Linked DNA regions of Homo sapiens. The protein of the gene in region 2 purifies or fractionates together with the protein of the main gene of each other region. This does not show direct contact. Each region holds a gene or a part of one and is shown on either strand. Other genes may lie near its edges. The genes, in order: ERF, OLFM4, ETV3 and P3H3.

What was found.
Region 1: the proteins of OLFM4 (region 2) and ERF purify together in Homo sapiens (affinity purification with mass spectrometry; 3 studies listed by BioGRID and IntAct, with this or other methods). This does not show direct contact.
Region 3: the proteins of OLFM4 (region 2) and ETV3 purify together in Homo sapiens (affinity purification with mass spectrometry; 3 studies listed by BioGRID and IntAct, with this or other methods). This does not show direct contact.
Region 4: the proteins of OLFM4 (region 2) and P3H3 purify together in Homo sapiens (affinity purification with mass spectrometry; 3 studies listed by BioGRID and IntAct, with this or other methods). This does not show direct contact.

Annotation. Positions count from the first base shown.
Region 1 is NC_000019.10:42,252,120-42,259,953, reverse strand, and holds the start of ERF (ETS domain-containing transcription factor ERF), read left to right. Parts: upstream 1-4,825; 5' UTR 4,826-4,954; coding exon 4,955-4,976; intron 4,977-5,318; exon of another isoform or gene 5,319-5,417; intron 5,418-6,054; exon of another isoform or gene 6,055-6,112; intron 6,113-7,834. UniProt on the Homo sapiens protein: Potent transcriptional repressor that binds to the H1 element of the Ets2 promoter. May regulate other genes involved in cellular proliferation.
Region 2 is NC_000013.11:53,031,791-53,038,812, forward strand, and holds part of OLFM4 (olfactomedin-4 precursor), read left to right. Parts: intron 1-2,557; coding exon 2,558-2,710; intron 2,711-7,022. UniProt on the Homo sapiens protein: May promote proliferation of pancreatic cancer cells by favoring the transition from the S to G2/M phase. In myeloid leukemic cell lines, inhibits cell growth and induces cell differentiation and apoptosis.
Region 3 is NC_000001.11:157,128,374-157,135,395, forward strand, and holds part of ETV3 (ETS translocation variant 3), read right to left. Parts: intron 5,855-7,022; coding exon 5,739-5,854; coding exon of another isoform or gene 5,707-5,738; exon of another isoform or gene 4,772-5,706; intron 299-4,771; exon of another isoform or gene 1-298. UniProt on the Homo sapiens protein: Transcriptional repressor that contribute to growth arrest during terminal macrophage differentiation by repressing target genes involved in Ras-dependent proliferation. Represses MMP1 promoter activity.
Region 4 is NC_000012.12:6,831,404-6,838,425, forward strand, and holds part of P3H3 (prolyl 3-hydroxylase 3 precursor), read left to right. Parts: intron 1-421; coding exon 422-511; intron 512-2,188; coding exon 2,189-2,241; intron 2,242-2,338; coding exon 2,339-2,406; intron 2,407-2,521; coding exon 2,522-2,646; intron 2,647-5,581; coding exon 5,582-5,683; intron 5,684-6,019; coding exon 6,020-6,170; intron 6,171-6,328; coding exon 6,329-6,446; intron 6,447-6,554; coding exon 6,555-6,630; intron 6,631-7,022. UniProt on the Homo sapiens protein: Part of a complex composed of PLOD1, P3H3 and P3H4 that catalyzes hydroxylation of lysine residues in collagen alpha chains and is required for normal assembly and cross-linkling of collagen fibrils.

The DNA.
Region 1 (7,834 bases), on a different chromosome or scaffold from region 2:
TGGCCAACATGGAGAAACCCCATCTCTACTAAAAACACAAAATTAGCCGGGCGTGGTGGCGCAAGCCTGTAATCTAGGCTACTCGGGAGGCTGAGGCAGGAGAATTGCTTGAACCTGGGAGGAAGAGGTTGCAGTGAGCTGAGATCCTGCCACTGCACTGCATCCTGGGTGACACAGGGAGACTCCATCTCAAATAAATAAAAAAAAAAATAAATAAATTTTTTGTAGAGAGAGTCTCACTCTGTTGCCCAGGCTGGTCTTGAACTCCTGGCCTCTTGAAATTCTCCTGCTTCGGCCTCCCAAAGTGCTGGGATTACATGTGTCAGACACAAACTGCAGCCAGCCTGTTTATTGCTGTTTACTCTAACTGTTGTTACAGTTGGAGTCTGTAGGGTAGAGTGCTCTTGTTATCCATGGGGCATAGAGTTCACTCTGCTAATAATTATTAACAGTATTTATTGCATACTTACTTTGCATCTCTGATTTTTCTTTTTTTCTTTTTTTTTTTTTTTTAAGACGGAGTATCGCCCTGTCACTCAGGCTGGAGTGCAATGGCATGATCTCGGCTCACTGCAACCTCCGCCTCCCGGGTTCAAATGATTCTCCTGCCTTAGCCTCCTGAGTAGCTAGGATTACAGGCGCCAGCCACCACGCCCAGCTAATTTTTGTATTTTTAATAGAGACGGGTTTTCACCATGTTGGCCAGGATGGTCTGGAACTCCTGACCTCAGGTGATCCACCTGCCTCGGCCTCACAAAGTGCTGGGATTACAGGTGTGAGCCACCTCGCCTGGCCACATCTCTGATTTTTCACAATAACTTGATCATGTAGGATCTATTAACACCTCCATTTTACAAATGAGGAAAATTGAGGCTCAAAGAGGTGAACTTGGCCAGGCGCAGTGGCTCACGCCTGTAATCCCAGCACTTTGGGAGGCCAAGGAGGGCGGATCACGAGGTCAGGAGATCGAGACCATTCTGGCTAACACGGTGAAATCCCGTCTCTACTAAAAATACACAAAATTAGCTGGGCGTGATGGCGGGTGCCTGTAGTCCCAGCTACTCGGGAGGCTGAGGCAGGAGAATGGCGTGAACCCGGGAGGCGGAGCTTACAGTGAGCCGAGATAGCGCCACTGCAGTCTGGCCTGGGCGAAAGAGCGAGACTCCATCTCAAAAAAAAAAAAAAAAAAAAAGAGGTGAACTTCGCTAGGCAGGGTGACTCACACCTGTAATTCCAGCACTCTGGGAGGCCAAGGTGGGCGGATCGTTTGAGCCCAGGAGTTGGAGACTATCCTGGTCAACACAGAGAGACCCCAACTCCACTAAAAATAAAAAAAAATTAGCTGGGTTGGCTGGGCATGGTGGCTCACGCCTGTAATCCCAGCACTTTGGGATGCTGAGGCGGGTGGATCATCTGAGGTCAGGAGTTCAAAACCAGCCTGACCAACATGGAAAAACCCCGTCTCTACTAAAAATACAAATTAGCTGGGCGTGGTGGCGCATGCCTGTAATCCTAGCTACTCGGGAGGCTGAGGCAGGAGAATTGCTTGAACCCAGGAGACGGAGGTTGCGATGTGCCAAGATGGTGTCACTGCACTCCAGCCTGGGCAAGGAGAGCAAAACTGCGTCTCAAAAAAAAAAAAAAAAAAAAAAAGCTGGGCATGGTGGTGGGCGCTTGTAATTCCAGCTACTCAGGAGGCTGAGACAGGAAAATTGCTTGAACCAGGGAGGCAGAGGTTGCAGTGGGCCAAGATCGTGCCATTGCACTTACAGCCTGGGTGACAAGAGCAAAATTCCATCTCAAAAAAAAAAAAAAGTAACTGGGCATGGTGGCATGTGTCTGTAGTCCCAGCTACTCAGGAGGCTGAAGTGGGAGAATTGCTTGAGGCAGGGAAGTCGAGGCTGTAGTGAGCCATTATTGTGCCACTGCAATCCAGCCTGGGCAACACAGTGAGACCCCCATCTCAAAAAAAAAAAAAAAAAAAAAAAGAGGTGAACTGAGTTCACTTGCCTTGTCAGAGACAAGAAGTAGCAAAGGTTGGGTGTAACAGCCAGGTGTGGTGGCTCACACATGTAATCCCAGCACTTTGGGAGGCTGAGGCTGGCGGATCACGAGGTCAGAAGATTGAGACCATCCTGGCTAACACGGTGAAACCCTGTCTCTACTAAAAATACAAAAGATTAGCCGGGCGTGGTGGGGGGCGCCTGTAGTCCCAGCTACTCAGTAGGCTGAGGCAGGAGAATGGCGTGAACCCGGGAGGCGGAGCTTGCAGTGAGCCGAGATGGGGCCACTGCACTCCACCCTGGACGACAGAGTGAGACTCCGTCTCAAAAAAAAAAAAAAAAGGTTGGGTGTAACTCATCTCTGTCTTGCTGGTGGGAGGGTAGGGGTCACTGGGTTTGTTACTGATGTGTTATCTTTTTGTTTGTTTGTTTGTTTTGAAACTGAGTTTCGCTCTTGTTGCCCAGGCTGGAGTGCAATGGCGCGATCTCAGCTCACCGCAACCAACCCCCTCCCGGGTTCAAGCGATTCTACCTTAGCCTCCCGAGCAGCTGGGATTACAGACATGCACCACCAAGCCCGGCTAATTTTTTGTATTTTTAGTAGGGACGGGGTTTCTCCATGTTGGTCAGGCTGGTCTCGAACTACAGACCTCAGGTGATCCACCTGCCTCGGCCTCCCAAAGTGCTGGGATTACAGGCGTGAGCTACCGCGCCCAGCCTTTTTATTTATTTATTTTTAGACGGAGTTTTGCTGTTACCCAGGGTGGAGTGCAGCGGAGCGATCTCGGCTCACTACAGCCTCCGCCTCCTGGATTCAAGCGATCCTCCTGGGTTCAAGCGATTCTCCTGCCTCAGCCTCCTGAGTAGCCGGGATTACAGGTGCGCCACCACGCCTGGCAAATTTCTGTACTTTTAGTAGAGATGGGGTTTCACCATGTTGGCCAGGCTGGTCTGGAACTTCTGACCTGAAGTGATCTCCCGCCTCGGCTCCCAAAGTGCTAGGTTTACAGGCGTGCGCCACTGCGCCGGGCCCTGATGTAGTATCTTTGAAAATCTGCATTTTTTTTTTTTTGGAGGGGGTAGTAAAAGAGGTAATAAAGCATAATGGTAAAGGGTAAATGTGGTGGTTTGGAATTGGTTAGATCTGGGTTCGAATCTTAGTTCCAATACTTCCTGGCTGTAAGATTTAGTGGACTGATTTTCCCTCAGAGAGCATCACTTTCTTTATCTGTAAATGGGGATAACAGCAGTAATTCCCCTCGTTGGGATTTTGTGAGGATTAAATGAGAAGATGCCCCTGACAATGCTTGGCCCGGTGCCTGGCACATCATGAACACTCGGAATTCGGGAGCTGTTATTCGAACAATGAAGATGATTATTATTGCTGGACCACACCGCTCCCAGAGGGTTACAATATCCGTGGGGGAGCTGTACTGTCCGTAGGCAAGGTTACATAATTCCCGGGGGTTGTGGGGGAAAGCTTCCCTGGAGCCCTTGGTCTCCCCAAGGAGGAGGCCTGAGACTTTTTTTTTTAGGCACTGGTGAGGAGCCTGTCTAAGGTGGACTAGGTACCCCGCAAGCGAGGAGGCTGGGATTGAAGCCCTGGGTACCGGGAGCCTGAGCTCCGCAGGCCTTCCCTATCTGTGACTTTTCTGTCTCCCCGCCCATCTTCTGGATTCGTCCCCCACCCAGCCCCCCCAACTCCCGCCCGCCACCCATACGCCCCTCCTTCGGAACCTCAGAGTCTTTTTTGAGACTCTGTTTCCAGGCTATGCCTGTGAATATTGCTTCTATTTGGCCTCTACCCTGCTGCCGGCTCCTGGGCTCCATCAGATCTGCGCTGTGATTTCCTGTTTCCCAGAGCCTCAGGCTTCATCCTTCCCTCCCGGCTGAGGCAGAGAACGGAGACTTAACACTTCTCTACGCTCTGGCTTTCGATCTTAAGCCCTGTCTTCCTCTCTCCTGGCGACCCTCAGTGCCCCTTGGGAGCACATTTGTTCAGACTTTGGTCGCCCCCTCGTATCCCGGCCCCGCCTCCGGAACCCCCGGTCCTAGTAGTGGACGTGGGGGGACCTCCGGCGCCAGCCCTATCCCCGGGACAGCTGCAGCCTGGGGACGGTGGTGGTGGGGGCTTCCAAATGCATTCTCTCTGGTCACTTCCTCCCCAGCTGGACGGGGGTTATCAGGGAAGCCAAGACCCCATCCCCACAGGAGCGGAGGGCACAGCCGCCTCCCCATTTCCGATGCTGGGAAATGCATCCCACCCATTCCACCCCACCCCTGGACAGCTGCCCCCATTCAGGCTCAGGGTTGGGGGGTTGGGTAAAACCAAGCTGGGAAATGCTGTGGTCTTCATCATCTTCTAAGGTCCTGACCCCGCCCCTCTGCAGAGAAGATTCTGCCCCCTCCCCACAAAAGTTTCTGACCCCCGCTTCCTCGGAAGGGCCCCCCGTTTTCCCATACAGGCTCCCAAAAGAAACTCTGGAGCCCGCAGTGGGCAGGAGAGGAGGAGGGGCAGCAGGTAGCGAGTGCCGAAGACTTAAGTTAGCTGCAGACTCGGAGCCTCTGACTAGGGTCATGACCCGCGGGACCCCATCCCACCCCCACCCCCTCCTTCCTCCCTCCCCCGCCGCGCGGCCCCTTTAAGCCCAGAGCCGGCCGGTCCTCAGTGGCTGCGCGCCGACGAGCGTGTGTGTGAGTGCGCGGGGAGGGGGCGGGCGCAGTGTCTCCATGGCGACGCGGCGGTGACGTCGCCGGCCGGGGGGCGTGGGCGTCCCGGCCCCGGAGTGCGATATTAACCCGGGAGGCGGCGGCGGGGAGGGGAGAGGCTCTGAGAGGCGAGGCCGGGTGAGGCGGCGAGGGCGGCCCGACGGGCGCGGGACGGGACGGGGCAGCGAGGGCGCCGGGAGCCGCGGCCCGGAATCGGGGCGCTTCGCCCCGGGCCCCCCAGCATGAAGACCCCGGCGGACACAGGTGGGGGCGGGGGCAGCACGTGTGGGGGAGACTTGTTGCCCCGGGAAACCGAACGGAGAAACTTTGGGGGGGCTGAAGGGGTCCGGGGGAGCCCGAGTGATCCCCAGTTCTGGGGGACCCCTCAAGCACTGGAGACCTGTTGCTTCTCGTGGCGCGAGCGGGGTTGCTGCCTGGGACCCCCGATTCCTGGCTCCGGGCGGAGTGGTGTGGGTGCTGCGGGTCTTGGTCCTGTATCCCTACCGGGACCCCGCAGGCCGGGCTCTCCCCCACTCCCGGGATCACGGGGGTGGCGGGGTCCTTCCCCTCCGCTCTTGTCACGTTGCACTCTGGGGGCCGGGACGTGTGCGGGGCGGGGGGGCTCGTCCACCGGGCCCGCTATCCCTGGTTCTGCGCTGCGCGGTCCTGCTGGTGACCTTCACGGCGGCGCGTGCCCTGCACCAGGTTAGCGGGGGATACGGGATGGCCTCTAGGAGGAGGGCGTGAGTGGGGAGCCCGGGACTCGGGGTCCTGGCTGCGCCGCCCCTCCCCCGCCCGCCTCTGTCGGCTCCTCGCTCCCCCGCCCTCGCCGAGTCGCAAAGTTCCAAAGCGCAGCCCGAACGTTCGAAAAAGGAACTTTTTGTTTCCGACCTTAGAACGCGCGGCTTTAAGGTGGCTCCGGGGAGACCTGGGTACCCTCCTCCCGCGCCACCGGTGGCCCGGGGTTGAGGAGGGTGGGGAAGGTGGGGGGAGACGCAGAGGCTCCCCCCTCGCCCCCCCTCCCGGATCCACCTCTTCTCTTTCAGCGGGCCGTCTCTTCCCTCCGCCCCTCTCTTCCCCGCCAACTTGCTCCTCCTTAAGGGGCCAAGGTTCCCCTCCCCCTCGGTCGGCGGGCGGGGGGCAGCGGGATTAACTCCCCCTCCCACTCGGACTTTTCCCCCTCCCCTCCCCCGCCGCCCCCGGGCTCGCGCGGGCTGGACTTTGCGCCCGAGCGCGCAGGGGGAGGGGTCCCAGCCGCCCCCTGCCCGTCTACCCCGTCGGAATCCGGCCCGGGGCGGGGACGGGGGAGGGGGAAGGGGGCCGGGCGCCGCTGTTCAAACTTGTTTCCTTCCCCCGGCGGCGGCGGCGGCGGCGGCGGCGGCTCGGGCTCCTGTGTGCGGGTGTGTGCCCCGACCGGCCCACCCACCCCACCCCATCCCCACCCCATTCCCACCCCATTCCCATCCCCATCCCCCTGCTCGGCGGGTGGGGGCGGCTTAATCTTAAAGGGCTCCGAGCTGGGATCCGGCGCCAGGGGATTGGGACCCGGACCGAGGAGGGGCCCTGGGGGTGGGGCCGGGGTGCGGAGTGCGGTAGGGTCAGTCACGTGCGTCCTACACACTCCCCCGGCTTCCACTCGCTCCCGGGTGGCTGGGCCCTGGGGGCAGCAGGAGCCTACCCTCGCCCAAGGAGGAGGCCGAGGCACCCAGACAACCTCGCTTCATCTTCTCTCCCTGCTACCGGCCTTGGCCTGATAGGATCCGCGGGTCGCTTCCCCAACCCTGTCGGGGGGCGGGACAGTGTGTGGGTTTTCCGGCTGGGGGAGGGGAGGGGAAGGAGGCCTGGAATGGCCTCCGATCGGTGCATCTTTCCCGTCTGCCTCCTGGCCTGCCGCTCCGCACCCCTCCATCCAGTTCTCCATCCCGGTCCCTCTCTCTGCCGTGGCTGTTTCCCACTTCCTGTTTTCTTCCCGGCTCTGGCGCCATAGAGGGCCGCCTGGAGTGGGGGAGGTGGTGGGGCCCCCCAGGAGGCCGGCGTGTTCTTCCTCTGCCACCACTCCTCCCTTCCGACCCTCATAGTCCCTTAAAAAAAGTTTGGGCCGTCACGTGAGGTTGGGGGGTGCCCAGGAGTTTTGTCCCCCCAGGCTTGCATAGTCTGTCTGGGAGAATCCCTACCCCGCCTCTGTGGGACCCAGGTGTGCTTCTGGGACCTCGCCATCCCAGCCCTTGCTGTCTGACTGCTGCCACTTCTGCACTCTGTCTCGCAGTCTCCTGAACCCCTCTCTCCATGTGCCTGCTCTCTCCCTGCCTCACTGGCCCCCATGTTCCCGAGGTCCCGCACCCCCAAGCTTCCTCCGTGCAGGTCTGGTGTTTCCCTGTTTTAAGCACGTGGACGCATACACAGCACACTCACACATGCTCCCCTTGCCCGTGCCTGGCTCCTGGCTCCAAGGCCTGGGGAACAGAGCCCCATTGAGACACCCTGACGTCACCCCCTCTTCATTCTCCCCCCCCCAAAGCCGGGAACAGGCCTTCATGTATGCTGTGTCCGATGAGGAAAGCCGCCGTTGTGGTGGGCTTGGGAGTGGGGAAGGGTCCCTGCCAGAAGTGGGAGCCAGGGTCCAGGCCCTGGAGGAGGGGTTGCTCAGGGAAGGGGTTTAACAAGGGGGCCTGGGACAGCTCCCAGAATGCGGCTTGAGGCCTTTCCAGAGCCCCCCCACCTCCTTTCCGAGTTCCCTTTGTGTTGCATGTAGTCTCTCTCACTCCCTCTCTTCTGCAAAGTTTATTTTTAGCCTCCTGCTCCCCCGCTCCCAGGACTGTCGCTGCACACACGTTGCCTGGTTACCGGGACACGGAGGCTGGGGCGGGTGGGCTGGGAAGGGTGGCTTTAATTTTGGGGGGAGGGTGGAAGTCAGTACATCCCCCACCCCCAGATTGATGTCTCAGGGGCTTTGGCCCCCCTTCTAGGTCTAGAGCCAGATTGGGGCTGAGGTGGAAGTAACATGGAGCTTGGTTCCCTGAGAGGGGCTGGGAGCTTTTTGGAGGGGATATGAGGGTCCATGAAGCTGGTGGCTGGGTCACCTGGGTTCCAAAGGACCCTGGGCCTTGCAGGAGACCTTGTGA
Region 2 (7,022 bases):
AATATAAGGTGTCTTGTGAGGTACTCAGGGTCCTATTTGCCCTACAGAAGGGGAATCGCATATTCTTCCAAAGGCCAAGGGGACAAGCTCTTGTCTTTGTCTCCCATCCCCCATGCTTCATTCATGTAGAGTTTGGGCATTCACCGCAGAGAGAGACTCATCACCATTAGCTTCATTGTCTTTGAATGCGAGGAGCAGAAATATCTCTAATGGGAGACACTGATCAAACTTATGGACCATTTTGATGTCAGCTGAGCATGCTGGGCTGATGATAAGCAGGATGGAAGCTGGGGGAGTCCACAGCTTTGGGACAGAGATGTTCAATAGAAACCGATGGAATGGCTGACAGCAGGGCTCATAATTACTTGTCTGTCTTTCAAGTGAACTTCAGGACTAAAAGTTGTTAGCTAGTGGTTCCTAATTGACTGTCTAGAGATTGCTTGATGATATCCACTGTTTTCTGAGTTGGCAGAATTTTTCAGAGAACTCTGAGAATGGCCCAACCCTGTTTGTGCAGCTAATTAAACTCCCCTTGTTAAAATGCAATGCAAGATTTTTTTTTTGCTAGACTGTTATTATAATAAGCTATTTCTTCAAAAGTCCTTGATATGTCGGTCTTTTCTGTAAAAGCCTTGGCATGCTTGAGTTGGAGTCTTTCTATCTTTGGAGAAATGAGTAAAGCTGGTTTCAAGGGAAGCTGGCCTCTCTGATAGGTTCCTGGTGTATCTTACCGAGTCTTTATTCATCTCTGGCAAAGACCCTTCCCCTATTCAAACCCTGCTGTCCACCCCTATGTTCGACATAAATCTGCTTGTTTCTCCTCCCTACTCCTGAACTGTTTCCCACGTAGGGATGTGATTGGAAAAGAAAATTGAGACCAAGGTAATAAATTTTGACTAAACACATAAAAAATATGATTGGATACACACACATATTTTTTTTTTCTGCTCATCTTGAAACTTAAATTAAATTAAAAACAACTTAGATGCAAAAGCCTTGATTGGCCCCGAGGCCAGTGATAAAATAAGTCTTCATTATAGAAGCATCTAGACCCAGCTTGATCAGGCATTATGGAGGTTGGTGGCCATTAAATGCACAGGACCCATTACACCACCTGCAGCTGGCTGACCTGAACTTTGAGAGACATGGCCAGAGTCACTTCTGGCTCTGAAGACCATTGCTGTCTCCTTAGAGGTTTCATAAAAAGTCCCTTCAGGCTGATGTTCCACAGGTGAGCTTTGGGTTGGCTTTCAGATGAGATCATTAAAAGGCACAGCAAATTGGCTGCCAAGGGTTACTCTGTAAGGCAATAGTAGTAATAAAAAAATGTTAATTGTGCTGGGATCCTCTTGGGGAAGTTCAAAGGGGACAAAAGAAAAACAGGATCTTTCAAAAGTGTCATTTAAAAATATGCGGTGGCACTGAAGTGTGAGTCTGAATATCTTAAATGAACATAAAATATTTTAAAATGACTTTTTCTGCAAATGGTAAGCTGGAAAAAAACTTTTATTAAAAAAAATTGCACAAAACCTTCAAGCTCATACGCTATTCACTTTCTAACAAATGGCTGGTTCCCATTTTGAAGGATGTTAATTTGCAATTTCCCAGGCGATGAGAGGATATGAATTTGCATCATATATTTTCACTGTAGCCCACATCTTTGGTGATTCCCTCATTCTGATGAAAAGGAATTGGATTGGGTTGGGGTGAAGGTGAGGAAGAGAAAATGAGCAGTAGAAGGAAAGAGAATGTGACATTTTCAGATCACCTACTCTGTGCCAGGGACTTGGCTCACATTACTTCGTTAATACTGAGGACAACCCTGTGAAGTAGGTTATCTCTATTTTACAGATGAAGGAACTAAGAATTAAGGAGATTTCACATCTAGCAAGTGCTAGAATTGAAATTCAAACTTAGCACTCTCATAGCTTCTTTATTTCCCTTTCCTTGCATAGAGATAGGAATAATCTCCTTTAAGACTCCAGAATGGCCGGGCGCGGTGGCTCACGCCTGTAATCCCAGCACTTTGGGAGGCCGAGGTGGGTGGATCACGAGGTCAGGAGATCGAGACCACCCTGGCTAACACGGTGAAACTCCGTCTCTACTGAAAATACAAAAAATTAGCCAGGCGTGGTGGCGGGCTGTAGTCCCAGCTACTTGGGAGGCTGAGGCAGGAGCATAGAGTAAACCCGGGAGCCGGAGCTTGCAGTGAGCCGAGATCGCGCCACTGCACTCCAGCCTGGGCGACAGAGTGAGACTCCGTCTCAAAAAAAAAAAAAAAAAAAAAAAAAGCCTCGAGAATGGGGAATCTTCCTTTAGGTAAAGTCTGCTGGCGTAGTGGTTTTCGTACAACCAGTGGCGATGTGGCTAAACGCTGGGTGGTCCCCACCTGTGAAAACAAAGCTGTTTTAGCTTGTTTCTATGATTCTATTCATTTATGTATTGGACTCCACTTACTTGCCTGTAAGTACTCTCGACAAGCCAATTTCTGTCACTCCAGTTGCCAAAAGCTCAGATTCCAGCTTGTTATTGATGTTCAACTTGTTATTATTTGCAGTTGTTTTCCAATTTCACCGGCTCCGTGGATGACCGTGGGACCTGCCAGTGCTCTGTTTCCCTGCCAGACACCACCTTTCCCGTGGACAGAGTGGAACGCTTGGAATTCACAGCTCATGTTCTTTCTCAGAAGTTTGAGAAAGAACTTTCCAAAGTAAGCATTTTCTTTTCAAACAATATCTTGATAAAGAGAAACAAAACAAAATGTGTTTTAATTTAGGATTTTATAAGCAATCATTCTTCACTATCAAAGACATCACGTTTTTATTCTATGGTGATTTTAGTATTTATTTTATAGGACACCAATGGAGTTCTTATTAAGGCAGGGAAAATGAGAGCACAGGAAGAAAGTGGGGTTCAAATTGTTCACGCCGTGGATAAACTCACTATAGTATTGTGGTACTTAGGCAGTTGGAAAGAAGCCTTGAGCTCTCCTTGCAAACCCCAACCTGCAATTTTTATTTTGTTTTGACGCTGCTTCTTCCTTTTGGTCTTCTAGGTCTTTCCTCAAGCTTTGCTTTCTTTTCTTTCTTCTCCTCTATCCCCTTTAGTTCTATTCTATCTCCCTTCTCTTTTTCCTTTTCTTCTATTTCTATTCCATTCCTGCATCCTTTAGTTTCTTATTTCTCTTGCCTCAATCCTTGCCCTTATTCATCCCTTCTAATCTCTCTTTTCCTTTCCTGGTTAATTCTTTTTTGGGGGGGACATTTTTGGGTATTTTCTTACTTTTAGATGATCTTTTTTTCCCTCCTTCTTTTCCCTTCCTCCACTTCCACTCCTTCAAATCCTCTCCCTCTCATCCTCCTCCCTCCCTCTCTCTTTCCTTTAACCCTTTTTTATCTTTACAAATTGCTCACTTCCTTCTCTCTCCCCCTCACTCTCTTTTTTTGTGACAATAAGTTGTAGTCTCTTTTATTTTTTTCTATTTTCTCCAAGTGAAATCCAAGGTTGTAGTCTCTTTATTTTTAATCTTATTTTTTTTTGGTGTATAGTAGGTGTATGTATTAATGGGGTACATGAGATACCCTGAGACAGGCATGCAATGCGTAATAATCACATCATGGAAAATGGAGTGTCCATCCCCTCAAGCATTTATCTTTTGTGTTACAAACCATCCAATTAGACTCTTTTACTTATTTTAAAATGTACAATGAAATTATTATGGACTATAGTCACCCTGTTGTGCTGTTGAATACTAGGTCTTATTTATTCTTTCTAACTACTTTTATTTTTTACCCTTTAACTATCCCCACTTCCATCCTCACCCTCCATCTCTTTCTTGATGGTTATCTTCTATTGTCTCAGCAGGAACATTACATTTGATGTGTCCAATATTAGACAAAAATTGAAGGCTTCCCTGGGAATTTGAATCAAGACTAATAGGTTTCTCAGCCTTGGTAAAAACACTGACTTGAACTCTGATTACTGTTTTTTTCTTTAGCCAGAGGAAGTTATCTTAAAGGGTTTGCCTTTCTCTGGGCTGGCTGGAGCAATGTGACTTGGTGTTCTAGTTTTGACTCCTTCCACCTTTTCAGCCCAAGTTAAAAATCAATTAGAAAAGTTCCTATTTTCTGCACAGGTGAAGTCCAAGCTAGTCTATAATCACATTATGCATTATTTAATACAACTCCATTAATTTACAAGGAGCTCTGGCTTTACTGCAAGATTCAGAATAAGTTTTCCTAAGAAATTTGAGCTTTGCCACCTCAACATCCAACATAGTTATCCTTTAAAACAAAAATTATGATGAGGCTGAGACCCTACTTTCAGCCTGAATTGGTAGATAAATATTCTAAGTTTAAATGAGTGTCCAGGAAAATGTGTTTGACTACTCTAGAAACCTAGCTGCTTAAGAAATATAATGTCCTTGAATTAATCAGTGGAAAAGGCACAGCATTAAATTATAAATTCTAACCATTAATATTCATAGCCTTATTCCAGCATAATCAAGTACAGATAAGAAGTTATGCATAAAAACATAACAAGTAGAGGAAAATCCTAGGTAAAGATCTTTTCAGTTAGAGTCATTTGCTTTGAAATAGTGGAAACTACTGATTTACATGTTGTCTTTGCTGGCAGCAGTGTGAAAGGCAGTTTGAAACCTTATGTGCTCCAGGGAGAGTATGTGGCTTGCCAGGTTTGTGAATATGGGACATTTAATTCCAATACTGTACGGGGGGCTGGTAACATCTGCTTTGCTAATGACAGATAGGGAAGAAGTGCAGAATAGGTGGGAAAGTTTTAGTTCTGAATGTGTCGGTGGCTGCTCTGATCCCAAAAAAACTGTGATTGTGGCCTAAGAAAAAAGTTTATCTGCTAGCTAGGATTTATATAATCGATTTAGTGTGACAGGTGATAATAACAACAATAATAGTAGCAGTTTGTTTGTGCTTTTTCAAATGCTTCCAGTTCTATTCTCTCCTCTCAAGTAACCCTTTAAGGCAGATAGGCCAGGTGTTGTCTCTCCCATTTTAGAGACAGTAAAACTGCAGTTCATAAAGGTAAGGAGACTTGCCCAAGGTCATTCCTCTCTTGGCTGGTTAAGCCAGGTCAGAATTCGAGTCTTCAAAATCATCTCAACTCTCTTTCCTCTTGGCCATGCTGTTAGCATCCTCCAAGGTAGGCCCAGGAAGAGATGCAGTAGTAATGCCTTCAAATCCAAAGTTATCCCTTTAGCTGAGGGCTTTCGAATTTCCAAGTGAGTTATTACAGCTGTCCCTAGGTTGCCTTGAAAATTGTCATTTATCCGGGGGCCTGGGAGAATGCCCGTTTAGGACAGGCCAGTAGAAAAGGTTTTTGACTGCCTTACATTGATTCATTGTCTGTCAGTACACAGAGAAGACAGGGAGCTGCCTCTGCATAAGATGCTGAAAGCATTTTATACTTTTCTGTTGTTTACGGTATGTCCTTTTGTGACTATACTTAGGAAAGGGATGGCACAAAAGGCAGCTCAGGATTTTCTCTTTCTCTGGAGGCTTATGGTCTTTGGCATGAGTTATTTAATATGACACATTTGCTAGTAGATCCTCATGCACGGGAAGGTTGAGGCAGCCTAGGAGACATTAAGGCAACCCATAAAGAAATAACATTGATTGAGCCGTATTTGTATAGTGAAATATAATAAATTAAAAGGTCAGATTGGAAAATGCTGAAATTACTGTTTCTCTATTAATTTCTATAATTCATAGGGCCTCCATTAACTAGGCACTTAACGTACATTATCTCTAGTCTTTATGATAATCTTGTAAGCTCAGTATCATTACCCCCAGTTTACAGGAAACTAAGGGTTAAAGAAATTAAGTGATTTGCCCACTAAGTACTGAAGTTAGATTTGAGTCTAGTTGGGTCTAGCTCCAAAGTACTTTATATGTCTTTACAATCACTCCAGGCTCAATGAACCCTGTTACGTTTACTTTGAAACATATATTGAAAATAGTAGTATGTTGCAAAGTAAACGTACTTATTTCAAATAGTCTGGCCATAGTTATAATCACAGGTTTTGAGAGACTGGCAGAAACATGAACCAGATTAATTCTTTAGCTTGCTAGCACTACACCCTTATTTATTACAAGACCACATTAATTATAAGGAACAATAACAGGCACCCTCAAATCAACGCTCACACAAATTTTATTCCTCATCAATGATATAGTATGTGCATAACAAGCAAAATAAAATGGAAGCTGTGAATGTTAGGCTGGTGGCTTAAAGGCTCAACTAAAACATAGATGAGCCATCTAGTGCTCAGACTTGTCATGATGAGGAGCTTCGAGATAAAGATGTTGACACAGGACGTGTCTCCTCAAGGCTAGACCCATATTCTTGATAGAATGTTTAGCAGCGTCCCTGGTCTTTAGATGCCAATAGCACTCGCCCACCCCCCAGTTATGAGAACCAGGACAAAATCACCACCACTACCGCCCTCCCTCCATTTAGAACCACTTTTCTAGATCAAAATACAGCCATAGGTCAGCTAAAGACAGGGACATGTTCTGATAAATGCATCGTTAGGTGATTTTAACATTGGTGAACGTCATTGTATACTTACACAAACCTAGAGGGTGTAGCCAACTACACACTCAGGCTATATGATATAGCCTATTGCCAGGCTACAAACCTGTACAGCCTGTGACTGTACTGAATAATGTAGGCAATTATAATACAATGGTAAGTTTTTGTGTGTGCATATATATCTAAACATAGAAAAGGTACAGTAAAAATATGATATTTATAATCTCATGGGACCACTGTCATATATGCAGTCTGTCATAGACAAAAATGTTATGCAGCAAATGACTGTATTTTCCAGAAGAAGAAAAAAATGCAGAAAGTGCCCCAAGTGCCAGATGTGGGACTGGAGGCTCCCAGGCAGGCTGGGCTGCCTCTCCCAAGACTGCACCTCCCAGGAGGAGCTGACATGTGGTCAGCATTGTCCACGCATTCCCAAAGCTACAGATTCATATATG
Region 3 (7,022 bases), on a different chromosome or scaffold from region 2:
GAGAAAGGCAAGAAGATTTGTGTTCAGAAGTGTGCCCAGTGCCACACTGTGGAAAAGGGAGGCAAGCACGAGACTGGGCCTAATCTCCATGTCTCTTTGGGTGGAAGACAGGTCAGGCCACTGGATTCTCTTACACAGATGCCAATAAGAACAAAGGCATTACCTGGGGAGAGGATACCGATGGAGTATTTGGAGAATCCCAAGAAGTACATCCTTGGAACAAAAATGATCTTTGCCGACATTAAGGCAGAAAAGGGCAGACTTGATAGATTATCTCAAAAAAGCTACTAATGGATAATAATTGGACACTGCCTTATTTATTGCAAAACAGAAATGCCTCATGACTTTTTTATGTGTACCATAATTTAACAGATCTCATAAACCAGAATCCAGATCATGAATGACTGACAGATTTTTGTTGGGCAGTCCTGATTTAATTAAGACTGACTTGAGATTAGATGAATATGTTTGGCTTTTGGAATTTTAACGGTAATTCCGATTTAGTAAATGCTATCTATCACTGTTTACCCCTTCTAAATATATGACTGGACTTCATTAGTAATGTTCAACTTTTCACAAAGATGATGAATGCCATCTTAAAACTTAATGGAGAATGGTTTTATATTTAGATTTACATAACTAGTTATGTGAATATATTTAAATACTGGGGAAAGTCCTTCACTGTCTTAGAACCAAGCAAGATTCACCAGTGTTTTATGTTCATTTGCCTCTTAAAGGCAAGGGCTGAAGATAAGGCAGCAATGTCTACTTTATATTTTTGGTTTTAACAATAATAGCCAATTTAATTAGAAATCTGTATCTAAAGTGATTTCTTTTACTTATTGAAAGGCATTTTAGTGGGTTTATGTGTAATATCAAATAAAGATTTAACACTTCTCACATTTTATAGGTGATCTATAGGATCAGATGCTTTAAAAATAGTAGCAAGTTAAACTTCACTCTTGAATTCTTTACCATCTAATTCAGACTAAGTTATAATTTGGGATTGCCTCTAAACAGCCATTCAGAAACATAACACTGTAGAACTGCTGTGTATTTGTGATTGGAAATGGTGCTTTTGCCAATTTAAAAGGAATTAAGTAGAGGAAATATAAACAAATTTAAAAATTATGCATGATTATAAGACTTAAGATAATTAAAAACAAAATCACAGACTGGAAAAAAAATAAAGCCACTGATTTAATTTTAAAATTAGGAAGAACAGATGGATGACCTTGCAAATGATTTGAGTAGAGCCAAGAGGGTCCCAGGCCAAATGTATTCTTCTACTAGCTTATTACAGTGGCTACAATTCTACCCTTTTTGATTCTTTTGGATCTTGACTTTCAATTAAGAGTACATCTACTCAAAAGCAAAAAGCCACTTCTATGTATTCAGAAGAAGGAAGTATAATGTGCAGGGAAAGGTCTTGTCTCCTAAGCAACTTAGAAATGCTTGGTTAAATCTAGTTTTGTTTTGTTTTTTTTTTGGAGACAGAATCTTGCTGTCGCCCAGGCTGGAGTGCAGTGGCACCATCTCAGCTCACTGCAACCTCCGCCTCCCAGGTTCAAGCAATTCTTCTGCCTCAGCCTCTCAAGTAGCTGGGACTACAGGTGCGCACCACCATGACTGGCTGATTTTTGTATTTTTAGTAGAGACAGGGTTTCACCATATTGGTCAGGCTGGTCTTGAACACCTGACCTCGTGATCCGCCCACCTCCGCCTCCCAAAGTGCTGGGATTACAGGCGTGAGCCACTGTGCCGGCCCAAAATCTAGTTTTTTATTAAAAAAGAAAAATAAACTGGAGGATATCTCAGTCTTTACATACGTTAAGGTATACTGTAAAGGAGACATAATAAGCAGTATTTTCCTGATGTATTTAGGTGGAGTAATGGGAGGTGAGACTAGAAGCAATACTGGGAAGCATTGCTTCTAGCATTCTGGAACCCTTATCTCTGATTAACTGAAGTAGCCCTACTTTTATATGTTGAGATATCAAACCTAAGATTTTGCTTAGAAAAAAAGTTTGCTGCTAAAAAAGAAAGTTTGAATACCATTGCTTTAGAAGTCCACCTCCATGAAGTCACCATGAAATTCAAGTACTGGGGTTGAAAAAACTGGGTCTGAATCTCAGTTCTGGCAGCTTCCACCTTGTAGCCTAGTACAAGTAGCACACTGGAATCTTTGACCCCCTCTGGCAAAATGGAATTCATAAGGTCCTTGCCTAGGTTCCAATCTTGGTCCTACCACTTACTAGTTATGTGCCTCTGGACAGCTTGCCTCTCTGTGCCTCAGTTTCCTTACCTGTAAAATAGGTCAGCACAGGGCCTATTGTTATGACGATTAACAGTTAATATTTGTAAAGCCCTTAGAATAGTACCAAGCATAGCAAATTGCATGTCATTGTTAAATAATTTTTTTATTAATCATGGTACAAAATTTAAACCCTAAAAAGACAACTGTCATTCGAATACGGACTATGTATTAGATAACAGAATTATATCAATGTTAAACATCCTGGGTGTGGTAATGTTATTGTGGTTATGGAGGAGAATGTCCTTGTTCCTGGGAAATACAAGCTGAAGTACACAGGGACGAAATGTCATGATGTCTGCAACTTAATCTCAAAAGATTTAAAAAGTATATATAAATAGAAAGAGATAAAGCAAATGTGGCTACAATATTAACCATTAGTGAATCTAGATAAAGGATATATGGGTGTTTACTGTCCTTCTTCCAGTATTCCTGTAGGTTTCGAGTTTTCCCAAATAAAAATTAAAAAACTGGGGTTGGTGGGAGTAGAGAGGCATAGACTGAGCGGTATCAAGTCCATCCCTGAACTGGTCTGTCCTGCCCCATCCTGACAGTATCTTCTGTATCTTTCCAATGTTTCTTATGCAAATATAAGAAAATATTTTAATAATGTGTTATACAGGATGCTTTTCATGATAAAATACACAGACCAGAATACCCCAACTGTCTCAACCCACCTTGTGGACATGATCTCAATGGCCTCCAGGATCTAAATCCACACAGCTCTATTTAGAGTACTTATCACATTTCACATTGTATTAAACCCGGCATATCTTATCTCTCCTGCTAAACTGTAAGTTCCGTGAGGTAAAGAACTCCCATTATCTGTTGAACAAATGAATCACAACCTAGAGGAGGAATGTATGATCTATTAAATAAGGGCTAGACTTCAACAGCTCGATCTCTCAGGAATTGTTTCCCTAGAAACTGTTCAATAGATAACTATTCAACCTACCCTGATCAGTCTTTAACTTTGCTGTCGTTTTCCTAATTTTATCATTTGTAAAATGTGGATATCAAGACATTCACTTCACTGGGCTGAAAAGTTGAATAACGTAATTCACAAAACTACTAAGCAAAAGTACCTCCATAAAGCAGATGTTCAATAAATGTTACATTCCTTTGTTATCATAAAGTTACCTTAAACAACATTTGGCCTCTCTGGTCAAAAGTTCTTTAAAAACTAATGACACCAGTTCTTTGCAGTTGTCTATACCTAGGATGTGAGCAACCAGGTAGTAGAGATAGATGTACTAAAAGAAATGTACACAGTTTTGCTTTCCTTGTGCTTTATTGAGACTGAGTCTCGCTGTCGCCCAGGCTGGAGTGTAGTGGCATGATCTCAGCTCACTGCGACCTCTGCCTCCCAGGTTCAAGTGATTCTCCTGCCTTGGCCTCCTGAGTAGCTAGGACTACAGGTGACTGCCACCTGTACTTTTAGTAGACATGGGGGTTTCCCCATGTTGGCCAGGCTGGTCTTGAACTCCTGACCTCAAGTGATCTGCCGGCCTTGGCCTCCCAAAGTGTTGGGATTATAGGCATGAGCCACCTGGCCCGGCCCCTTGTGGCTTTTTGATTAGGATCTTGAGCTTGGGTTAAAGATCAATGTTGGTTCAATCGCCTTCGGGCAGAACAGGTGTGCTGGGCCACTATTGTTAGGTTTCTAGATCAGATTCTTCACAGAGTGAGGATCCAGGTTTCCTTGCCCTGGAAAACCACATTACTTCCCAGGGCTTATGAATGCCCCATTCTAGGTTGTCCAAGTGGCTGAAGTTCTGGATTTTCAATAGATAAAAATGGGTCAAAGACAGAAGAACAAGACGAATGAAACATTTTTTTGGGAGTGGGGTGAAGGGGTATGAAAACCAACAAATTCTTTAAAATTGTTGGTATATACATCTAGATTCCCAATTCCTCTAGGCATACAAGGAAGGGGCAAGAGTGAGAAACAGAGGAAGCAAGATTTGAGTGGCGAGTACAGGTCTGATTTCCTAACGCCTCTCCCTCAGGCACAAGGAAAGAAAACAGGTTGTAATTAGAGAGATGCATTCCAATACCACTTTTTTTTTTTTTTTTAAATGCATGCCCCAGGGACAGGAGGGAGTGGTTACAGAAGTTGAGATGAAACTGTAATGATAGCAGAGTCAAGCTAAAACTGCCCTAACTTGTTGTGTAGTAATTACATATCTGCAATGGATCTCAACATTATGTTCTCTCAACCACACCCCCACTAATTTTTCAGGTTTCTTCCAGCTTTTCTGAGAAGTTGTATTACTGCATGATCAGCATTCTTTGCCTTAGCATACAAGGCCACAATGACAGAGTACTTACTGATGGACTGGTCAGAAAACAGTTAAATACAATCTACAGTAGTCCTTTCTTATCTGAGGTTTTGCTTTCCACTGTTTTAGTTACCCACAAAGGTCTGAAAATAGGTCTGTACAGTACACAAAGATATTTTGAGAAAGACCACATTAAGTTTATTACAGCATATTGTTATAATTTTTCTATTTTATTATTGTCATTAATCTCTTACTGTGCCTAATTTATAAATTAAACGTTATCACAGATACATATGAGTGGGGTTAAGGGAAGAAAAAACATCATATATATGAATGGAGTTTGGTACTATCTGTGGTTTGCGAATCTACTAGGGGTCTTAGAACATATACTGCTCAGATAAGGGGAACTACTGTATTTTCTTGGGCAGGAGTATGATTTGCATAAGGAAAAAAATCACAAACAAAAAACCACACAACAACAAAGTCTTTTGAGAGACTGCTTTCAACATCAAGAGAGAATGTGGGGAGCTGTGATGGAAAGCTATAACCAGGAAAGTCAAGAGGGGAAGCCCTACTGCACTTAACAGGAGAGAAGGTCAAGTAACCCCAGAATCTTTTTCTCTGAGGATTTGCTGTTGCAGATCAAAGACACTGCTTTTCACTGCAAACATGTGAACCTCCCCCTTCTCTGATCAAGGATGCTGTGGTTTTGATGATATTCACTTGATAAGGGAGAGCTTGGTAGTTTCACAGAAAATCGGAAGTGTTTGTAGAAACAGGTTCCCATCTATGAAAGAACCACTGGGCTGGGTGTTAAAACTGAGTCCTGAACGTAAAGATCATCACAAACCTATGAAACATCATTCCCAAACAAGATAGCGTAATAGTATCTAGGAGATTACAAACAATATGCAGAAAAGGGAACCAACCAAATAAACCAAAGAAATCTATCTTGATACTGAATAGCCTATAACTCTCCTTATAAGTGAGATGACTTGAGTAAGAACATTGAGGCAATCCAAAGGATCACATTATTTTAGTGTTTCTAAAATCTTCCTAAACATGCCATGTCTTAGATTTGGATTTTTAAAAATTCTTTTCAATTCAAAATTAATTCCCTACCAAAAGAGTTTGTATCTTACCACTTGACCGAATGTTGATGAATGGGTAGTTGGGCATCACCAGCTTGTTGAAGTTAAATTTATAGGTAAATCTTTTCCCTTTTGTTTTATGAAGGATCCTCTTGTTGTAATAGTATCTGTAAAAACAGGAATACATGTCCATTCGTCTTGTAGCTACTGACAGCTTTCAATACACTTAGGTAGCCACTGAGACCAACAATTCTTGCTCTGAGTATTACTTACAAAAATCACTACCAATCTTTCGCAGCCTGGCCCTCCAGGTAGATCTAGGAGACCTAACAGCTTAATTTTCTTACTCAATTTTCAACTCAGCTCGTTTTTGCCTAGAGGTTTACAAAGACAACTTCACTTTAAGATTCTGAACACTTATCCTAGCCCCAAACATTTTCTTCTCCATCTCTCTACAATTTCGATTCTACAGTCCATTTCCGTCCGGTTGCACTGCATGTCACTAACTGCTTAGTTTTTCTTTTTGGTCTTGCCCAGGTGGGGGCAGACAAATCACTAGGGAGACCTGATGTGGTTAGTCTGGAGGCCTAAGCTCAAAAGACAGACAAAGGAATGTACAACTGTTTTATGGTGGCAGGTCAAACAATGGCATGCCCTGATCTGGAAAACAGCAGCTAGTGTGGCCCGCCTCACCTTCAAAGACTCAAAGGGATGTGAAAGAATACAGCAAAGCCACTGTACAGAGTTTACATTTCAGGTCAGGAGAACTTCAATTATCTGGAACCTTTAGTCTTACATCTATGCAGTAGCAGAGGTCATAAACTGCCTTCTAGCCCCTTGAGGGCTAAAGGACTATGAAATGTAAGACCGACAAGGGGAAAAAAGAACCTGAGAAAACTTATAGTGATCAATCTTTAGACATATTGCAGCAGGCTATGGACAACCTGAGCTCACAGACACAGTTCCGGAATAGATAGGTCAGTATCACTGAATCTTCCTCCCGTGACTTGCTTCATCCTTTTCTAAGTTTCTTTCAGGGAAGCCCAAAGAAAGAAATTCTAACAGATTCTAATAGAGAAGTCTAAACTAATCCTTTGGATTATAAATGAACTCCAATCCATGTTTCACCATATACTCTCGCCCACTACAGAGCAGAATCAGCTGTCTGTCAGGATCCAGTGCCAGCCACATTGGAATCCCCTCCTACGTATAACCAAAGATATGCCTTTTCTCCTCCTGTGCCTATGCTACTCACATTCAACAGCTCTTCTACTCCCACTTTAAAGTGACACATTATTCACTAAGATAGTGTAGTCTTTTATTACCTGATACCCT
Region 4 (7,022 bases), on a different chromosome or scaffold from region 2:
GACCTGAGAAGTAACCTGGACCCCCACCCCCCGCTGGCCTCTTACCCGAGCACTCTAGTCACCCAAAGGACTCCAAGTCCAGCATCTGACTTCCGTCTCCACTCCCTGCTCCCCACGGCAGCCTGGAGTTCCGATTCCAGCCCTCAGCCCCGTCTCTCTTGCCTTTACTTCACTCCTGCCTGCCACCAGCCCCCAAACTCATGCATACACACACCCACACACTCACACACACTCCCACCCCCTACACCCTTTCCAGTTTAAGTCCAGATGCTCTGAAGCTGCTGAGGGGGAACGTTGAACAGAGGAACCGGGGGGCATGGTGCCAGGTTCAAGGAGCATGGAGCACCCAGGCAGTGCCCTAGAGCCGGCGCTTCCCTGCCTTCCTCCAGCTACCCCTCACTGCTCATCATCTCACCCTCAGGACATCCAGCGCTTCATCCTCCGATCCCTGGGGGAGAAGAGGCAGCTCTACTATGCCATGGAGCACCTGGGGACCAGCTTCAAGGATCCTGTGAGTCACTCCACTTCTGCCCATCTCACCCCTCCGCACTCCCAGGAGGGATGGCACTTTGGTTTGCAACAGAGTTTTCCATTTTTCCACCATGAGGCTTGGAGAAGAGTCTGCCATCCCAGTTTTACAGGGACGGAGACAGTGTGCCTGTAGTTAGGGCGGCTTTGGGGTCACGCAGGCCTAAATGTCAGTCCTCCTCTGCCCCAAACATCTCTGAACTTCAACTTGCCTCTGCCTCAATTTCCTTACCTGTAAGTTGGAATAATCACATCTGTTTCACAGGGCTGTTGAAACCACATCATTTGATAACAAAATATAGAAAGCTCTGTTACTGCTGCTTTTATTTCTCTTCTTGTAGTTATGAGAGGAAACTGCGGGGCGGAGGTTATCTATGGCTAGGACTAGGGCATCAAGCAGGCGTTCTCAGTCTTCCTGGCGCTACTGATATTTTGGATCTGACATTTTGGATAATTCTTTGTTGGGGCAGAGGGCAGGGCCTGTCCTATGCCTTGGAGGGTGTTCAGCAGCTTCCCTGGTCTCTACCCAGTAGAGATCAATAGCACATTGACAGCCCCTGAGTCATGGCAATCAATGTTTCCACACTTTGCCTAATGACCCCTGGGGGCAGAAGTGTCCTGCTTGAGAACGACTGGCTAAATGTGTGAACTCTGAAGCTAGTTTTTTTTATTTTTATTTTTATTTTTGGAGACAGAGTCTCACTCTGTCACCCAGGCTGGAGGGCAATGGTGCGATCTTGGCTCACTGCAACCTCCACCTCCCAGGTTCAAGCGATTCTTCTGCCTCAGCCTCCTGAGTAGCTGGGATTACAGGTGCCCGCCATCTTGCCTGGCTAATTTTTGTATTTTTAGTAGAGATGGGGTTTCACCATGTTGGCCAGGCTGGTCTTGAACTCCTGACTTCAGGTGATCCACCCGCCTCGGACCCCCAAAGATGCTGGGATTACAGGCGTGAGCCACCGGAACCCGGCCTGCAGCTAGTTTAAAACCTAACGCTGCTTTGGGAGGCCGAGGCAGGTGGATCACCAGATCAGGAGTTCAAGACCAGCCTGGCCAACATAGTGAAACCCTGTCTCTACTAAAAATACAAAAAATTAGCTGGGCGTGGTGGCGGGCGCCTATAATCCCAGCTACCTGGGATGCTGAGGCAGGAGAATCGCTTGAACCCAGGAGGCGGAGGTTGCAGTGAGCTGAGATCGCGCCATAGCACTCCAGCCTGGGCGACAGTGTGAGACTCCGTCTCAAAAAAACAAAAAACAAAAAACAACAACAAAAAACAACTAACCCTGTCATTTGTAGCTGTGTGATCTTGAGCATGTTACTTTACTTCTCTGTGTCTCAGGGCTCTCAATTACAAAATGAGCACTTTAATATTCTGTTTCATGAGACTGTTGTGAACTTTAAAGGATAAATTCCATTTCCATGAATAAAGCTCTTAGAATAGCCCCTAGCAGATAGTAAGTGCTATATGAGTTATAGTTGTACTTGTTGTTACAGTTTGATCCACTGCCCAGGGCTCCTGACATTGAGTCCCGGGCTTTTCCTACCTCCGTCTTCCTCTCTGGAAACAGAAGAAACTTAATGAGATATTTCAGCTCTAATGTCAGGGATTCCAGGGGCTGACCTTGGTGGGTGATGATGCTTTTCTGGACTGTCGCAGGACCCCTGGACCCCTGCAGCTCTCATCCCTGAGGCACTTAGAGAAAAGCTCAGGTAGGATATGCCCCATGGTGGGAGGGGCTTGGCCCGAGCTGGGAGGCTGGGTCTGGACTGTCCTGGGCACCCACTGAGCGCATCTCTCACCCCTGAGAGAGGATCAAGAGAAGAGGCCTTGGGACCATGAGCCCGTGAAGCCAAAGCCCTTGACCTACTGGAAGGGTGAGTTCCTGGGAGGGAGAAGGCAGGAGCCTGGAGGGTCTGGGGGCTGCCAGCTACTGCTCTGCCTGCCCTTAGGGGATGCTCAGCCCCCTCTGCTCTGTCTTTTCCCTGGCAGATGTCCTTCTCCTGGAGGGTGTGACCTTGACCCAGGATTCCAGGCAGCTGAATGGGTCGGAGCGGGCGGTGTTGGATGGGCTGCTCACCCCAGCCGAGTGTGGGGTGCTGCTGCAGCTGGCTAAGGTAGGAAGACCTGCAAGCTCATCAGCTCGTTCAAGACTCTTGGATACAATCACCTGTTCCCTTGCTCTTGGCCTGCCCCCTTCATTCTGCCTGTCCTGATTATCCAACCGGGACTGTGCTTACCACTGCCTCTCAGCTGTGGATAAGTTCCGTCTCGTCTTAATTTAGCTGACATAGGTGGATGTTCTTTACAAATGAATTTTGCTAGAAATTGATAGGAAGAACAAAACAAAAAACATGAAGGCATAAAAATGGATGAGTGTGCAGGTAAGGATTGCTTGGTTAGCCAAGAGTTTAGTTACTGGCTTGGCTGATGGCTCAGCAGACACGCAGGCCTTTCTTTCCCTCCTAGTTTAGGTTGAATGACTCATACTCACCAGGTTGAGGCTACCATTTTATGAAGCTTCAACCCTTATCTTAGGTTAGTGCTCATTCAGTAATATACTCACTGAGTAGCTGCTATACACTAGAAACTGCTAGGTTCTAGGGAGAGGAAGATGATTATAGACTCTGCCCTTTGGGAGCTCAAGTGTAGAGGTGGAAACAGACAAGGAAATACATAATATAAGCAGGTGGTAAGTTTGGTAAAAGAAGTATGTTTTTGGGCTGGGTATGGTGGCTCATGCCTGTAATCCCAGCAATTTGGGAGGCCGAGGTGGGTGGATCACCTGAGGCTGGGAGTTCGAGACCAGCCTGACCAACATGGAGAAACCCTGTCTCTAATAAAAATACAAAAAAGTTAGCCAGGCGTGGTGGCACATGCCTGTAATCCCAGGTACTCGGGAGGCTGAGGCAGGAGAAGCGCCTGAACCCGGGAGGCGGAGGTTGTGGTGAGCTGATCTCGTGCCATTGCACTCCAGCGTGGGCAACAAGAGCGAAACTCCATCTCAAAAAAAAAAAAAAAAAGTATGTCAAATAGAAGCACTGAAATGCAGTTATAGAAGGCTTGCTGGAGAGGTGGTATTTGAGCTCAGTCTTAAGGATGAGTTAGTCAGGCGATTGGGGGTGGAATCAGTCTAAGAGGGAGAAGAGCATGGTGCATTCTGGGAACTGCAGTCAAGCACAGGGGTGAGAGCAGGGCCAGCTCCATAGTCATTACCTGTGTGATCTTGGGCAATTTATTTTAACATCTCTGAGCCTAATTTGCTCATCTATAAAATGAGGATAATAATAGTGTTTTTGTCATAGTGTCGTTGTGAGGATTAAATGAGTTAGCACATGATAAAGCTCTTAGAACACAGAATCATCACTGGCTGGGTGTGGTGGCTCATGCCTGTAATCCCAGCACTTTAGGAGGTCAAGGCAGGTGGATCACTTGAGGTCAGGAGTTCAAGACCAGCCTGGCCAACATGGTGAAACCCGGTCTTTACTAAAAATACAAAAAAATTAGTGGGCATTGTGGCAGGTGCCAGTAATCCCAACTACTGGGGAGGCTGAGGCAGGAGAATCGCTTGGACCCAGGAGGCGGAGGTCGCAGTGAGCCGAGATCGCACCATTGCAGTCCAGCCTGGGCAACAAGATCAAAACTCCGCCTCGAAAAATAAATTTTTTTAAATAATTAATTAATTAATTAATTAATTAAAAAAGAACATAGAATCATCAGGGTGTATGTTACCAAGAGACAGTATAGGGAAAGAGGGAGAGAGCCCACACATGAAGGCCGAGGGACAGTGAGTGTCTTCTGTGGCCTCCCAAGGAGTTTGGGCTTTATCTGTGTATGGTAGACAGCTGTTGCAGGATTTTAGGACGGTTGACTTTTGCATTCCTGTAGTACCTGGAATCAGGTGCAGGGTCTGGAGTCACCTGTAGGAGTGGTAGAGCCCTCTAGTGGCAGTCTGTAGAATGCAGTGGGAGAAAGACCCGGAAAAGGGGAGTAATTGACGAATGCCACCGTTGGCTGGCGAGGTGGCTCACACCTGTAATCCCAGCACTTTGGGAGGCTGAGGCAGGCGAATGGCTTGAGCCCAGGAGTTCCAGGCCAGCCTGAGCAACGTGGTAAAACCCCGTCTCTACAAAAATACAAAAAATTAGCTGGGCCTATGCGCCTATATGTTCCCACCTACTTGGGAGGCTGAGGTGGGAGGACCTCTGGAGCCTGGGAGGTGGAGATTGCAGTGAGCTATGATGGCGCCACTGCACTCCAGCCTGGGCGATAGAGCAAGACCCCGTCTCAAAAACAAAAAATGAAAAAAAAAAAAAACCCCAGGTTAGACGGCTTGGGTGACTAGGTGTCTCTCAGAAGTGAGATTTGTATGCAGGCGTAACTAGATAGTGGTGCTTAAACAAATTCAAAAAGTAGACAAAAAACGGGTGTCAGAAAAGCGAATAATTCCAGTGTAGACATCCAGATATTAGGAGACCCCCAGGTAGTGAGAGTGGTCGCGGAGGTGGCTGGGTAGTTGTGACTCAGTATCAAGGAGTGGGGGAGCCACGGAGTCCACAGTTTCTCCGAGAGCATGTCAGGTGGGAAGAGGTCAGAGAGGGATAGCCCGCTGATGCTGTCTCCCTACCGCCAGTCTGGCCTAACTGTGGAACTTCCTCTTAGGGTCCTGTTTCCAGAGGGACTCCTCTATTCTTGGCTCATCGGGGATTAATGATCAAGCCCTTCCTGCCTAGTTCCCAGCTCTGCCCCACTTTTCCAGCTGTCCCTACCCTCTCAGAGGCCCCCTTACTGCTGTAGGAAGCTCTCCCGAGTTCTCTCCACAGTCCCCTTAGTAAGCGGGATTCCAGCCCGTACCAGAGAGGGACAATCGGACAGCCGTGGCGGTGGGCACTCTCTGGGAAAGAGCAGCAGCTCAGGAAGACGAGCCACAACAGAACTGTGGGAGCATCTAGCTTCTTCTGGAGAGCGGGAGGGCCGGAGGGAGGGTCTTGCAGCCCTGCAGACAGTGAGGGGCTGGGGGAGTGACTCCACGGTAAACTCCTTCCTATTTAGGATGCAGCTGGGGCTGGAGCCAGGTCTGGCTATCGTGGTCGCCGCTCCCCTCACACCCCCCATGAACGCTTCGAGGGGCTCACGGTGCTTAAGGCTGCGCAGGTGAGCACAGGAGGCACCCGGGCCCGTCTGATGCCCAGACCTGGAGGAGAGGCTGTGCAGGAAGCCGGGCCCCAGGGCCTGGGCTTTTGTGAAGGAGCTTTCTTGGGACCGAGACTACCTGATAGGACCCAGCGTGGAGAAAAGGGATGTTCTGAGAGCTGGGGCCGGGGTTGTTGTCATGGAGAGAGAAGGAGCAGTTTGGGCTGATGGACAGAGCTGGATGCTGACAGACTCCAAACCCATGGGTGGAGAGCGGCAGAGTTGGGCAGGGGCTAGGGCCGAGACCACCCTCCCCTTGCCTTCCTCCTTTTCTGCCCTGCCTTTCACTGCCTGCAGCTGGCCCGGGCTGGGACAGTGGGCAGTCAGGGTGCTAAGCTGCTTCTGGAGGTGAGCGAGCGGGTGCGGACCTTGACCCAGGCCTACTTCTCCCCGGAACGGCCCCTGCATCTGTCCTTCACCCACCTGGTGTGCCGCAGCGCCATAGAAGGTACGACAGGGACCCCCCACTGCTCTTCTCCAACCTCAGGCCCTGCCCCCAGGACACTGCCCCCAAGAGCCCCGGGGTGGACGTGCACGGCCTGAGCCCACAGGGTGGCAGATGGGCACAGGGGCACAGAGGTACCCCCAGACCCCTTTGTGTCCTAGGAGAGCAAGAGCAGCGCATGGACCTGAGTCACCCAGTGCACGCAGACAACTGCGTCCTGGACCCTGACACGGGAGAGTGCTGGCGGGAGCCCCCAGCCTACACCTATCGGGACTACAGGTGGGCAGCCCCTCTAGTGGTCAGGCAGGTGGGCAGACAAAGGTCATCCCACTGCCGGCCTGGGCCTGGGTTGGGGTCTCACTGCCTCTTGCTTTTTTCCCTCCCCAGCGGACTCCTCTACCTCAACGATGACTTCCAGGGTGGGGACCTGTTCTTCACGGAGCCCAACGCCCTCACTGTCACGGTGCGTGGAGTGGGGGGTGTGACGGTGTGACAAAGGGCCCAGCTGTGGGGTCAGGATTCAAAACAGAAGGCTCCAGAGGCAAATGCAGGGAAATGGCCAGGGCTTTTAACCCTTTCACTTCCCCGCCTCCGCAGCCCTCCCGCTGCTTCCTCCGTAGCAAGGTCTCTAAGTGGCCGAATCAACCCTACCATCAGTATTTGTCTCGCCTCCTAAAGAAGGGTGAATGAAGCACAGCTTGCAGGTGCCTCCAGGACTCCATGGCCCTATTCTAGGGATTTGGGGAACTTGAAATAGTCCTTCCTCTTTGCAGCGAGGTGAGCACAGTGGCTGGCGCACAGATACCAGGGCCGCCTTGACTGGGGCTCGGATTCTGAACCTTTCTGAGGTTTAGT